Regions from separate parts of the Homo sapiens genome. Here regions 1 and 2 are each reported to be linked to region 3. Evidence: microRNA targets listed by miRTarBase, many of them from high-throughput screens and not tested one by one. Region 3 holds a microRNA gene; each other region holds the end of a gene's coding sequence.

What was found. Region 3 holds the annotated microRNA hsa-miR-4267 (UCCAGCUCGGUGGCAC, at 1,964-1,979, opposite strand). A microRNA usually pairs through its seed, bases 2 to 8, with sites in the 3' UTR of a target mRNA and lowers its output. Matches are read on the target gene's strand: a 7mer-m8 pairs with bases 2 to 8, a 7mer-A1 pairs with bases 2 to 7 and ends in A, and an 8mer does both.
Region 1: the mRNA of XKR7 is a reported target of hsa-miR-4267. Seed matches in the 3' UTR shown: 7mer-A1 at 2,353-2,359 and 7mer-m8 at 2,066-2,072.
Region 2: the mRNA of GPRIN2 is a reported target of hsa-miR-4267. Seed matches in the 3' UTR shown: 7mer-m8 at 595-601, 7mer-m8 at 3,784-3,790 and 7mer-A1 at 3,989-3,995.

The regions. Positions count from the first base shown.
Region 1 is chr20:31,996,894-32,001,082 of GRCh38, reverse strand. XKR7 (XK related 7) reads right to left here. Exons shown (of 3, transcript NM_001011718.2): 3 at 1-4,189. The coding sequence ends at 3,626. Among named protein-coding and RNA genes, the nearest start is that of CCM2L, 11 kb to the left of the region's middle.
Region 2 is chr10:46,545,749-46,549,937 of GRCh38, reverse strand. It overlaps GPRIN2 (G protein regulated inducer of neurite outgrowth 2), which reads left to right. Exons shown (of 3, transcript NM_001385282.1): 3 at 1-4,189. The coding sequence ends at 578. Among named protein-coding and RNA genes, the nearest start is that of GPRIN2, 8.8 kb to the left of the region's middle.
Region 3 is chr2:110,068,054-110,072,242 of GRCh38, forward strand. It overlaps MIR4267 (microRNA 4267), which reads right to left and starts at 1,989; the gene lies at 1,908-1,989.

The DNA.
Region 1 (4,189 bases), not on the chromosome of region 3:
GCTCCCTCAGCCCTTATCCAGAGGCCTGGACTTTCCCCAGGCCTCACCTTCCCTGCCCTCTGTCTTTCCCGACTCTCATGGGTGACATGCCTCTGTGGGACACAGGTGTAGCAGGGAGCTGGCTGGGGGTAAGGCAGATTTGGGGGAGACACAAGAATGAGGCAGATGACAGGAGGGGATCAAGCAAGGCTCCCTCATTGGGGAGCCCTGTGTGGGGGAGTGGGGAGGTCTGTGCTGTTCAGCTGGGGTGACAGTTACAAGGCACATGGCACATCAGTGCCAGGAGGCGCCGTGATGTGGGTGTGTGTGGTGCCTGCAGAGGTTTGGGGAACACAGTCAACAGCGTGGGGGTCAGTTCTAAGAAAACAGGTAGACAGAAGTCTGCCCTGGAGATGGGGACACTGGTCTCCTGGGGTTAGAGGTAACTGAGGGCAGGGCCTGCCATATTTGGTACCCAAAGCATCCTGTTCTCTTCTGTTCCTGGCAAAATTAAGACACACCCAACTACCTCTCATCCCCAGGGAAATCCTAACTGCCACTGACTTCCTGTGTGGCCTTTGGTGAGTCCTTGGTCCTCTCTGGGTCTCACTTTCTCCTGTCTAATGGATGTGGAGGGCAGGTGGCTTAAGGAACCCTCAGGGACCCTCTGGGCTGCAAGGACCCTGGCAGGGTGGGAAGGACAGGGAAGGACTGAACATCCAGACTGGGGTGGGGGTCAGGGGACAGGAGGCAGAGGACCAGGGGGGTCAGTTCTGCTAGGGGAGAGACTGGCTGAGGTAGATTGTGTCACAGAAAGAAAAACAAAACAGCTCCAAGGGGATGGACCCCTCCCTCATCTGACTCCTCTATCCCAGTGAAATGAAGGGACAAGCCAGTGGAGCAGGGGGCCTCAGGCCTGGTCCCGAGCTCCTGGGTGGAGAGTCCTTTAAGGGCTGAGACTCTTCTGAGGGTGAGAAGCAGGAGGAGGTGCCTGCAGCCCTCTCCCTGGGCCCTTTGACTGTGGCCATTCCTGTGCCCAGATGTCCCTGCAGGCAGAAGCCCTGAGGGAAGGGTGTGTGGGGTTGAGAAGAGGTGGGGAGTGGGGGTGGAGTAAAATCCAAAAATGTAGCCATGGCTTCCCTGCGAGCCTCAGACCATGCCAAGCCCTGCCAGCACATCCCTGCCCCTTGGGAGTCTCCTGGAGTGTAAAGGACCCCAGCTAGGACTTTTCCTCTAGAAGGCAGCAGCCAGATGGGCCATTCTGGGATACTGGGGAGGAGAATAACTTGCCAAGGGTGACCCTCATGCTACATCTCTGGGCCTCAGTTTCCTCGTCTGTAAGATGGGTTGATAATACCTCTCTTGCAGGGACGTCGTGACCAGAGGAGAGTGTAAGTGAAACGACATGGGGTGAAAATTCCTGGCACAAAGTTGGCCCTGGAGAAACAGTCTGTTTCTGGGTCTGGGTCCGCATCTTCAGAGCTCCCATCTCACAACGGCTTTGTGTGTGAATTCAGCCTCCAAAGATGGATTTGGAGGATGGATGAACCCAACAGAGTGGGCCTGGGTCAGCCTTGGGCTTCTCCCACCTCCCGTCACCCTCGAGGCCTCGTTCCTGAGGGTGCTTAGCAGCAGAAAGAAGGAAAAGCACTCTTGCTGTGTTGGCAGGAGGGATGATGCGTACACCATCTCGGCCTGTGTGCTGGTGGGGAGGGTGACCCGTATCATGGTTGTGCTTGTGCTTGTGTGTATGTGGGCAGTCTGGCCCTCCCTGCCTTTGGGGTTACCCTGCATCCCCAGCAATTCATCATTACCCATCACCTTTTGATGGGCAGCCCAGAGTCTGGGACCTTGAGAGAGTGGCTGCCACTCTGGGCCTCAGTTTCCCATCTGTAACCCAAGAGAGGCTGAACCAGGGAGGGCTAAGCATCCCTCTAATTTGCATAGTCTAGGATTCTCATGGCCCACCTCACTCCAGGATCAGGTTGGCATCTGTCCTTAACATCCGCTGCTGTCCTCTCCCACCAATCACACCTAAGTTGCTGTGGGAGTGTGTGTGTGGGGGGGTGGGGGGTGGGTTGGGTTCCCAGCTCTGCTAGAGGCTCTGTCTCCTCACCCCATGGAACTGCCTACTTCCCCTCTCCCATACGCCCCCTCAATCCAGCACTGGCTGTCCTAGGTGGGAGGAGGGGCCCTGGGTGAGTCCCCTGGGCACTCCAGGATGTTCAGGCCATGGGAATAGACCACAGGTCCTGGGGAGTCATCAGATCTAAGGCAAAACAAGTCAGTTTCCCAGATGCCGCTCCAGGGAGCCCCATTTGCAGAGTGGCTGAGAGCCAGGATTCATGTCACGTCCCCAGAGCTATTTTTTTTTCCAGCTGGGAACCAGTTGGCAGCTGAAATGTCTCAGGGGTTCTGAGGACAATTTCCTTTTAGAAAGATGGCTATGGACCAAGGTAACAGGGGCCTAGAGCTCCCATGAGCCCCAGAAGTCTAGAATGAGAGCACCCATTCCTAGAAAATTCCATTCACGCTGGGCTCTAGAACCTCTTCTCCCCCACCACTGTGACAGGTGCTAGAATCCCCCACAGCAGAGCAGCAGGCCTCCAGTGTCCTCCTCCTCACAACAGAATACACAGATCAGAGTGGCTCCCTGGGACATTTTATCAGCCTAGCACTCTAGAACTCAATCTAGAACTAAGCCTGCTTCTGGATCAGTTCCTCTGATAACTGTGCTAAAACCTCACCTGCACTTGAGCCCAGAGATCTTTCCAGACATCTTATCTGCTGTGTTGAAGACCTGTATCTAGAAGCCACGTTCCAGGTGCACATCTAGAACAAAAAATGGCTCCTTCAAACATTTCACCTGAGGTGTGTGGAACTTCATCCTTCACAGAGCCCACAACACAACAAGAGACGTCTCCTAAGGAGTTCATTCTTGTTCGCTATGCTCTGGATTGCAGGTTCCCCTCCCCCAAGTCTTCCACCCCTCCATGCTTCTGCCAGCCTAGACCCCCCCCCCAGTTCTTTCTCCTATCCATCTCCAGCACTGCCAGCCCCCCACCCCAACACCCTGCCCCACCCCAACTCCCTTCTTCAGCTCCCTCTTGCCCTGGCTCCAGGCCTCAGATGCTACAGGAGCCACGCCATCCCTGTCCACACAATGCTCCAACCTCACCCCATCCCTTCCACGGCCACCTCCATCCTTCTCAGAGATCTTTTCCCACCATAGAGGCAGCCCACTCTCCACAACCCCTGAGGAGCACAGGGTCTAGGTCATGGACCCCAGACAGTGCCCTTTCTCTGGCAAGTCCAGCAGGGGCAACACATGGGCAACGCCAGGCAGGGGAGAGGTGTGGAGGCCCCATGAAAGCAGGGCAGCTCGAAAAGTGTAGCACCAGATGATTCCCCAGGCCCTGGGTCAGGGGAATTTAGGGAATGGGCCACAAGGCTGAAAACGGGGCCCAGGGCTGGGGCCTCCGCAAGGCTGCCCCCTCCCCTGAAAGAACCCAAGAGTGGGGCCACTCTACCCTTGGACCAACAGATCCACTCCCCCTTAGCCTGGTGGCCCTGAAATTCGGGGCACAACACTGCGGCGGATGTGGGATCAGCCAAGCCTGTCCCTTTTGTGCTGGGACACTGTAGCCTACACTGTGGTCTCATACTCCAGCAGCTCCTGGGAAGTCCCCACACTCCGGTACTGCAACCGGGGCGTGGCAGGTGAGGAGTACTCCAGTGCCAGGATGGTCTTCCGGAGCCGGCGGTCAATAAAATGAGCATCCCAGGCCGGGTACTTCTTGCGAGGCAAGTCAATCCGGATGACAGGCCCCTCTGTCCGCAAGGTGCGGGCCACTGGTGTGGGAGGCAAGCCAGGCCGCACCTGGAAGACAGGTGGGGTGGGGGTCCCTGCACGCTCTCCCGCCGAGGCCCCATCCCGCTCAGCACCTGTAGTCCTTGGCAGGGACCTGGGGGGACTCGTGATGGCGTCAGCGGGTGGGCCACAGGGCTCTGAGGCCTTACGGAAGATGCAACCAGGTGCCTGGGGACCCAGCATGGGCCCATTGGGGTGCAGGAGACAGTAGTAGACACACATGAAGAATATGCCCAGCGCAAAGCTGGAGGCCACTACGCAGACCATGATGAGCGAGTAGAAGTCGGTTGAGAAGTTGCGGCTGGAGTACCAGAAGCCGGTGAGCGCGGCGTTCTCCAG
Region 2 (4,189 bases), not on the chromosome of region 3:
AGTCTGGGCTGCAGGCTCAGCATGGGGTGAAGATCCACTGTAGGTTGTCTGGGGGGCTCCCTGGGCATTCCCATTGCTGTGCCCACCTTTGGGGTCCCGCTGGGTTAGTCCCAGAGCCTGGCTCTAGGACCAAAGATGTGTGGACCATGACCTCAGCCAATGACTTGGCCCCTGCAGAGGCATCCCCGCTGTCAGCCCAGGATGCTGGTGTGCAGGCGGCCCCAGTGGCGGCCTGCAAGGCTGTGGCCACCAGTCCGTCCCTGGAAGCGCCTGCAGCCCTGCATGTGTTCCCAGAGGTAACTCTGGGGTCCAGCCTGGAGGAGGTGCCGTCCCCTGTGCGGGATGTGCGATGGGATGCTGAGGGCATGACATGGGAGGTGTACGGAGCTGCGGTGGACCTGGAGGTGCTCGGTGTGGCCATCCAGAAGCACCTGGAGATGCAGTTTGAGCAGCTGCAGCGGGCGCCCGCCAGCGAGGACAGCCTGTCTGTGGAGGGCCGGAGGGGGCCACTGCGGGCTGTCATGCAGTCCCTGCGGCGCCCCAGCTGCTGCGGCTGCTCCGGCGCGGCCCCCGAGTGAGGAGCTGTGGCCCTTGGAGCTGGCCTGGGCCCACTGACTTAGTCCTAGACCTGGGCCAGGGACGGTGGGGGCTCCGTGCCCCCTGGACCCACCGGCAGCTGGGCACATCTCTCACCTGAATATTGGCTGCCTCCAGACCACAGGACTGCAGCCTGGGGCTTCCGGCCCTACACAGCTGGGCTGTTTTCTTAAGGGCTTGATTTCCAAGGGCCACATCTCTGCACCTTCCGGGCTCTGAACTTTGAGACAGGGCTTTAGCACTGTGCAGAGGGGAGATCCTGAGTTTTCTGTAAAAAATGACCTTTTGTTCACTCCACCCTCAGAACTCTGCCATGTTGCCTCGTCAGACTCTTGGTGGCTTTATTTGAAATCAGTGCTGAGAAATAGTGAATTCTCGACATGAAATGTGAGGCCCCAGTGACAGGGACTGCCCAGGTCTTTAGGGAAGGGGACTGATGTTATCAGAGGCCTCCTGTGTGCCACATACTGTGCTTGTCCTGTCTTCACCTCTTCATCCTGGCAAGCCTTCATTTGGCAAGGCTGTAGCCGATGTGCCCCACGCTGGACAGCTTGAAGAGGTGGGACTGAGATCCAAAGCCAGGGCCAGCTGAGCCGTGGGTGTTGCCCTGTAGCATGTGCCCGGTCCAGTCAGTGCAGTCATGTATGAGGAGAATTTACTGAGCTCATACTCTGTGCTGGGTTCTGTGGATTCTGTGGTGAATGAGACAGAGGCTGCCCCTGCCCTGGCTGAGCTCATGGTGTGGGTTGGGGATGGCAGGGGAGGATGCTGACCATTACGGAGGGCTGCCAGGCTTCCAGGGTCATTGTGTCAGAGGCTGGCCTGAGGAAGGGGAGAATGGGTGGCCACCTGCCCTAATCTCAGTTACAAAGCCTAAAATTGCACTATTTTCACCTCATTCTGTCGGCTGAAGGATTTCTCCCCAGCTGGTGCAGTTTGTGGAAGGAGGGAGGGCAGGAATGGAGGGGGACAGGGCAGGAGTTTGCCCTGGCCCTGGGGTAGGGGCTGTGAGGCTGTGGGGGCTCGCTTGCCCACATGACCTGACCTAGGCTAGGCAGTGGGGGCCAGGGGCCTTGGAGAGACAGAAACATGGGCTTTGGCACAGTCTGACTTCATTGCCCAAAGATTTCTCGAGGCCTGTGAAGAATGGGAGTGGGCTTGTGTTCTTGTCCTGGGTCTTTGTCTTGAAGATCCTAAGATCCCGTGACACAGCCCCCCAATCCACCCGTGTGAGGGACCAGAGGGCTAGTGTGGGGTCATGGCCCACGACCTGGCCTGTTTCTGGAGCCTCTTCTGCACCTAGGAGCCCAGGACCCCCACAGTGGTGGCTTACTTTTCCCCATCCTCAAGGACCTGGTACTCATTGAGGTGGAAATGACTCATGCAACAGTTGGTGAATTTGTAAAGCAGGAGTGGCATTTCAACAGGCCACAAGGACAAAGTGACAAAGGCGTGCGTCAGGTCAGATGCCTCCTGAAGCCCAACGATGGACCATTCTCACCCGTAAACATGCCTTTCCCATATGCATAGGTGCACCCCTTGGGATTCTGGGGCTGTCAGTCCCTTTGTGTATGGTGCCAGGGCAGGCAGCTCACGTTCTGGGGAGTGACACATGGGTATATGCCATCTTCATGCCTGGCTCCCCATGGAGTCTCCAGGAACCCCAGCCTGTTAGGGCCACATGAGAGAGAACAAATGGCTGTGGGTGCATGGGGAGGGACCTTTCACACAGGGCCATAGCTAAGTAGGGTCTTGAGGATGCAGGGGTTAGACAGGTGGGTGGAGAGAGGGCAGGACCTGCCTGGCAGATGGAACAGCCTGGTCAGATACTTGGATGTGCCTGTCCTGCCTGGGCCATAATGAGTTTCTGCAGTGGCGGCTCATTTGGAGCGTTTGTTGGGTTGGGAGGTGACCAGGGGTCCCCATTGTGAAGATCCTGATGTAAATGAGGAAAGGAACTTTAAGGGAACTGTGGAAGGGGTTCTGAGGTGGGACCAGATTTCAGTTTAGAAATATCCATTTGGCTTCCAGTGGAGATGTGCCAGGTGACACCAAGGAGGGGCCTGTTTAGGGGCAATGGAGTGGGCAGCTGGGGGCTGGGTTCATACACGTGCACACACACGCATACACAGGCACACATGTGTGCAATGGATTTGGGGAGGAGGCATTTCAGGATGCTGAGGTTTCCAGTTTGAGCAAGAGGAGGGTGAGGCCACTACCTGGGTCAAGGTGAATGGCATGTTCAGCAGGTGCAGAAAGGGCCACCTGCCACAGGGTTTGGCTGGGACCAGTGAAACCTACTTCATGAAGAGACTTTCTTCTGTGTCACGTGCAGATTCTTATGCATTCACGCTGGCTGGGTGCCACTCTGTGCTACCTCCATGCTGCCCTGGCTTGCCAGGATGGCAGGCCGGGCTGGGCTCAGCCAAGCTCCCACTCACCTCATCGTCACTGAGATGAGTATTTGCAGAGCGGTGCTGAAATCCAACACCTGTGTCTTGGCTGGGGCCCCAGATGATTCTCCTGGCTAAACCACGATCCTTGTCTCCCTAGCCCAGTTGCACAGCTGCTGCTGACAGGTCTACCTGAAGTGACTGCAGCCTCATTTCTGATTGGAACTGGAGACCCCTCCCAACCCCCTTTGCTGTGCCCTCTCCTGGAACAGCCCTGATGCCTGCAGTGGTTTAGGGCCCCAGAGCATGGCCAGCGGTTTAGTTTACAGATCTCCTCCCCTTGGACTCTAGATTTCTGGCCAGACTTTCTGGGTCCCTTTCAGGCCCTGCTCTGGGAGGTGTTGGAGTTCACTGTTGATGTGTTTGTTTGGCTTTGAATTCAAAACAGATACAAATTTGGAGGTGAGAGCTTTGCCAGACCCCAGCAGGGATGGGGCATCGGTCCTGACTGGTCTTGTTTATTTTGTCCTGGTAAATTCTGTTCTTTGGAGCATAAACCCTGGAGTCCTAGAGCCCCTTGCCTCAGCAGGAATCCCCCCTCTGTCTGCTCCAGGGGCTCCCTGCTTCTGCCCACCTGCTCTCCTTCCATGGCATTCAGGACCCCCGACAGCTGAAGCCTCTCTTCATATAGCTTGTCCCCTCTGGGCCTGCCTGTCTTGTGTCCAGGACACAAGACACGCATCCCTTGTCTGGCCCCAGGCTGCCATCACTGTCACAAGAAACTCATAGAGTAGAGCTGGTCTGAGGTCACAGTGCTGGTGGTGGTGGAAAAGCAGGGATGGCCTGTTCCACTGTGATCTTACCTCCTGTGTCACCTGGATTGGGTCTCTGTCCCCTTAGACATGCTAGATCCTAACTTTACAAGGGCTGAAGGGGTCTTCTACACGCAGGTCCCAACACTTTGGGCTGGGGTTGGCCACCGTAGCTTAGTGGGCTAAAGCTGGAGTTTGAATCTGGATATATAGGATCCACACCTATAGCCATGTGATCTTGGGCAAGTTACAAGCCTTGATCATCTTCCTCATCTGTAAGATGGGGATGACAATGGTGCCTCCTTCACATGCTTGGTGTGGAGATTAAATAGAATAACCCAAGTAGTGCCTGGCACTGAGTTAGTGCTCAGCACACAGGCTGGTAGT
Region 3 (4,189 bases):
GGTAGTAAAATATAAGAAGGTTCTACTGTGCCAGGCTCTTGGTCCACATTTCCTTATTTAATTCTCACAACAGAAGGCAAAAAGGTGAGTGAATGGCCCAGGACAAGTCTCTGACTCCTAACCAGCTGGCTCTCAAGAGATACTTGCCAAAGGAAGAAATGGCCTATGTATACCATTCACACTTTAGTATGAATTTATTCCTACAGTATTATTTCCACTCTGCATCTGAAATGAAAGACAAGTGTTTCATGTAAGCTGCACCAGTAAGAGATGCCTAAGAGGCTGGCTGGTTTTTGCTGTGCAAGTGGTTCGACGTGGGGCTGCAGAATACTCTGGCCTAATTCAGAGCTGAGAACACAGACACCGTGGGCCCAGGAGTCCACCTGCCTTGAGTGTTGTGACTGCACTTGGGCAGGAGTGGAGCCAAAAAATAAAAACAGAAGCAGCCTTGGCACATAGTAGAACCTTCTTATATTTTATTTACTTCCCAACCTTTTACATGTCATGAAATGCATAGAATACAATACAATTTTTTTTTTTTTTTTTTTTTTTTTTTTTTTTTTTTTGGCAGAGAGTGGTTCCCCAAGGTGGATGCTATTCGGGGAAATCTTGCTGATCTTGCCCTCTTCCCAAATGCATGGGAAATATTACCCATTTGTCACACAAGCTGTCTGAGGACGCAGTAGCCTGTGAGGTCAGGGGAAGAGCCCTGGCTCCTCTGAACCTTCCTCTTGGTAGCACAGGCCATGGCACTTCGGCATGTCAGATCTAAGCCAGAATGCAACCTCCTCAGTCACCCACCCTGTGAGCTGTGGGCTGGCAGCCTGACCTCTCTGAGCCCAGGCGGGTGAGGAACCCTGCCCAGGTCCGTGGGGGGGTGGAAGGACCAGATGTCACGTGCCTGGCACATCCTGAGTCCCACTTCATGTCCTTTCCCTCACCCTCCGTGTTCCCTCAGCTGAGCTGGGCCCAAATCTTCATCCCAGGGAAATGGGACCCAGTGACCAACTGGGCTGTGCTACTGCAGGCACCTTTGAAATGAGCCCAGGGGAAGCAGTAAGAAAGCAGCAGGCTATGCTTGGAGAAGCGCCCGTCCTGTCCACCATCGCTCCACCTTTCTCCATCACTCCTTACCTGACCTACCCCAACACAGGTGGCCAGAGGCAGGAGGGCTCCCCAACAGCTCCTACAGGTGTTCCCTGCAGCTTCCAGCCAATTCTCACAGAGCGACAGCTGTTCTTCTGGCCTTTGCTTGGGGTCTGAGCCCAAGCACATGTATCCACATGTGCGAGTTCAGGCTGAGCTCCCACGGTGGGCAGCACCTTTTGTGTGTGTGCCTGTGCATGTGTGCACACATATGTGTGAACTGTGCAGGCTGTAATTTCCAAAACCAAATTTGGCTTTTTTTGATTTGTAAGTTATTTACATCAACGAATTTTAAAGAAGCATAAAATGAAATTAAGTTAAAGTTTTAGTGGATCACCTCTGAAAAAGAAAAACTTTCATTCTGTGAAATTGGATTTCTAGAAAATTCCAGGATTCCCCACAGTTAAAGGCACAAGGCAGGGACAAATTCTGGCCATGTCACATGCAGGGGGCATGGGTAGTAAGAGTGGGAAATGGGGTTCGGGGCTCAGTTCCCCAGCACCTTGCTCTTCCTTTTTCTGACTCTCCTGGTTTGTCTTTTCTGGTGTCTGTGAGCCCCTCAAGGGCAGAGGCCATTTCTCATTCATCCTAGCATCCAGTACCCAGGGCCCAGCCTGTCATGAGGAGGTGCCCAGCAATCTGAGCGTATTTAAGACTGGGTCCTGATTCTGTCTTTTGTCCCCTCCTTGGGTTCCCAAACTCTCTGTATTCTGCTCCTTCACATTTAAATTGACCCCCAAACAGGATCTCCCAGCCTCCTTGGAGATGTGGGCTCCATGCAGGGATGACAGAGGCTGGGGTCTGGAGCCTTCCCCCAGTGCCACCGAGCTGGAGCCTGCTGAGTTTGCAAGTCATCACGGAGAATCCTCGGCTCCTTCGGAGATACCACCCCTGGGCCTACTCTGGGTTCTGAGATGGCAGCCCTAGTGCCAACCTCATCCAGAAGTCATCACTCCCTGGGGGACTGTGAGGGTGTCATCGAATATCTGCCAATCTGCTGACAAGTAGACATCCCAATGGCCATGGAGAAAACATCCGTGCAAGGGCTTTGATCCTCCGAGGCTCCATGAGAACACTGCTATTATAATAGTTACTAAGCCTAATAAAAAGTATAATGATAGAATATATATCACGATGTTGACCCAAAATGGCAATGTTTAGTTCTTAGGGAATTCAAAGTACACAAAGTCCTTGAGAAGGACACAGCTCTCAAAGAGACTCAGGTCACCTCCCTGCAGTCGTCACCCTCCCCGGTAGCCAGTGCAGGCACAAGGATCTGCCACTCCCTGCTTAAACCCTACCCCCTTCCAGAGCTCCCCATTCCCTGTGGGAAGTCACAGGAACACCCAATCCTTGTGAGCCAGACCTTGGCCCAGACTCTCGCCAGTCACCAGCCAGCTGGCTGCTGCTGTTCCGGTGCCCTTCCTCATGCTGTTCCCAGCGGACTCTCCCCACAGGCTGCCCTTCATCCTCCAGAGCTCCACCAGGGTGATCGTAGACCAGAAGGGTCCAGGTGCTTGACCAGCAATCATTCTAGTAACTTTTGGGAGGTCACACTTTCTAGGAGGCCTCTAGTAAGTCCCTCCCCTCCACTTCCAGCTGGGGCCGGTGACCCCTCACCCTAAGACGTGAGGCCTCTAGATCTGTCTTATTCTGCTCCCAGCCTTCCAGGTTCTGGAGAGCAGGAGGCCCTGGCCCAGGAACAGGCACCCAGCAGATGCTCAGCAGCCATGTGTGCAACAGAACTAAATCTTCCAGCTTTGGCTGAAAGCAAACATCATGGCTGTCTCAGCAGGCACGTGCTCCCAGGGTTGTGTCCTTCCTGGAAGATCTCAGCTTCTCCCACATCTGTGTCTCCTGAATCCACACCAAAGGAGCCTCGTTCAGAAGGGACCCCAGGACAGGGCACGGACACCTGTAATCCCAGCACTTTGAGTGGCCAAGGCAGGCAGATGGTTGAGCCCAGGAGTTTGAGACTAGCCTGGGCAACATGGCCAAATCTGTCTCCACAAAAAACGAAAAATTAGCAAGGTGGGTGGTGCACACCTGTAGTCCCAACTACTTGGGAGGCTGAGGTGGGAGGATCGCTTGAGCCTCACAGGCCAAGGCTGCAGTGAGCTATGATCTAGCCACTGCACACCAGCCGCTGCAACAGAGTGAGACCCTGTCTGAAAAAATAAATAAATAAAAAATAAAAGGAAGGAGCCCTGGGTTTGATTCGGGCCTCACGATGTGCCCTCTCACTGCACGAAAGTGGCCCAGGGGCACACTCTGCCCCTCTCTAGGAGGTGGTAGTGACCTGGGAGGGCCTTGGAGCGGATCTTTGTGTCCCTCAGTACATGGAGAAGTAAACTGAGGCACAGAGAGACGGGCATGTGTCCCAGATGGTGGGAGCCAGTGCTCGCTGGGGCAGCCCCTCCTTGGACCCAGCGGCAGAATTTCAGCAGCAGGTGGGGCCAAATAATCGGGTCCAGGGTGAGAGAAACACCTGTGTAAATTTGTCTTATAGGGCCCTGGAGAGGAAGGGTAGGAGCTGGGGCAGGTCAAGGTGCCCCTGGAAGCTTCTAGAGACCTGGATACACACCAGACAGCAGCGGCTGATGAAGGAAACAGGTGGGCTTTTAACAAAGTGTGGACAGTCACGATTCTTTCCCTGTAGCCCTGGGACCCCAATGTCCTTAGCCACGGTCCCTCAGCTGCCCCGGGAGCCGCCAGCATGAGCCGGTGTCCCGTTTTAGCGCAGGCGTGCCCTGGGACACTGCGGGCGCCCAGTGACCCGACTGAGCAAAAAGGGGCTTCAAGTGGAAGCCCCTCTTCCAGGCACCTCCGTGTCACTCCTGCGCCTGCATAGGGTGCCTTCCCGGTAAGATCCTGAGAGTTTGCACGGGCCGGTCCGGGCTCCCGGCTCTGCCCACCTGATGTCACTCGAGGACTGCCCCTCCCGGCCTTCGCGCGGAGCGCGGGCGCCACCCAGTGGTGCATTCGAGTAACCGAACCCAGCTCTCAGCCAGATCCCCGCCTCCAGCGGGCTCCCCAGTTATTT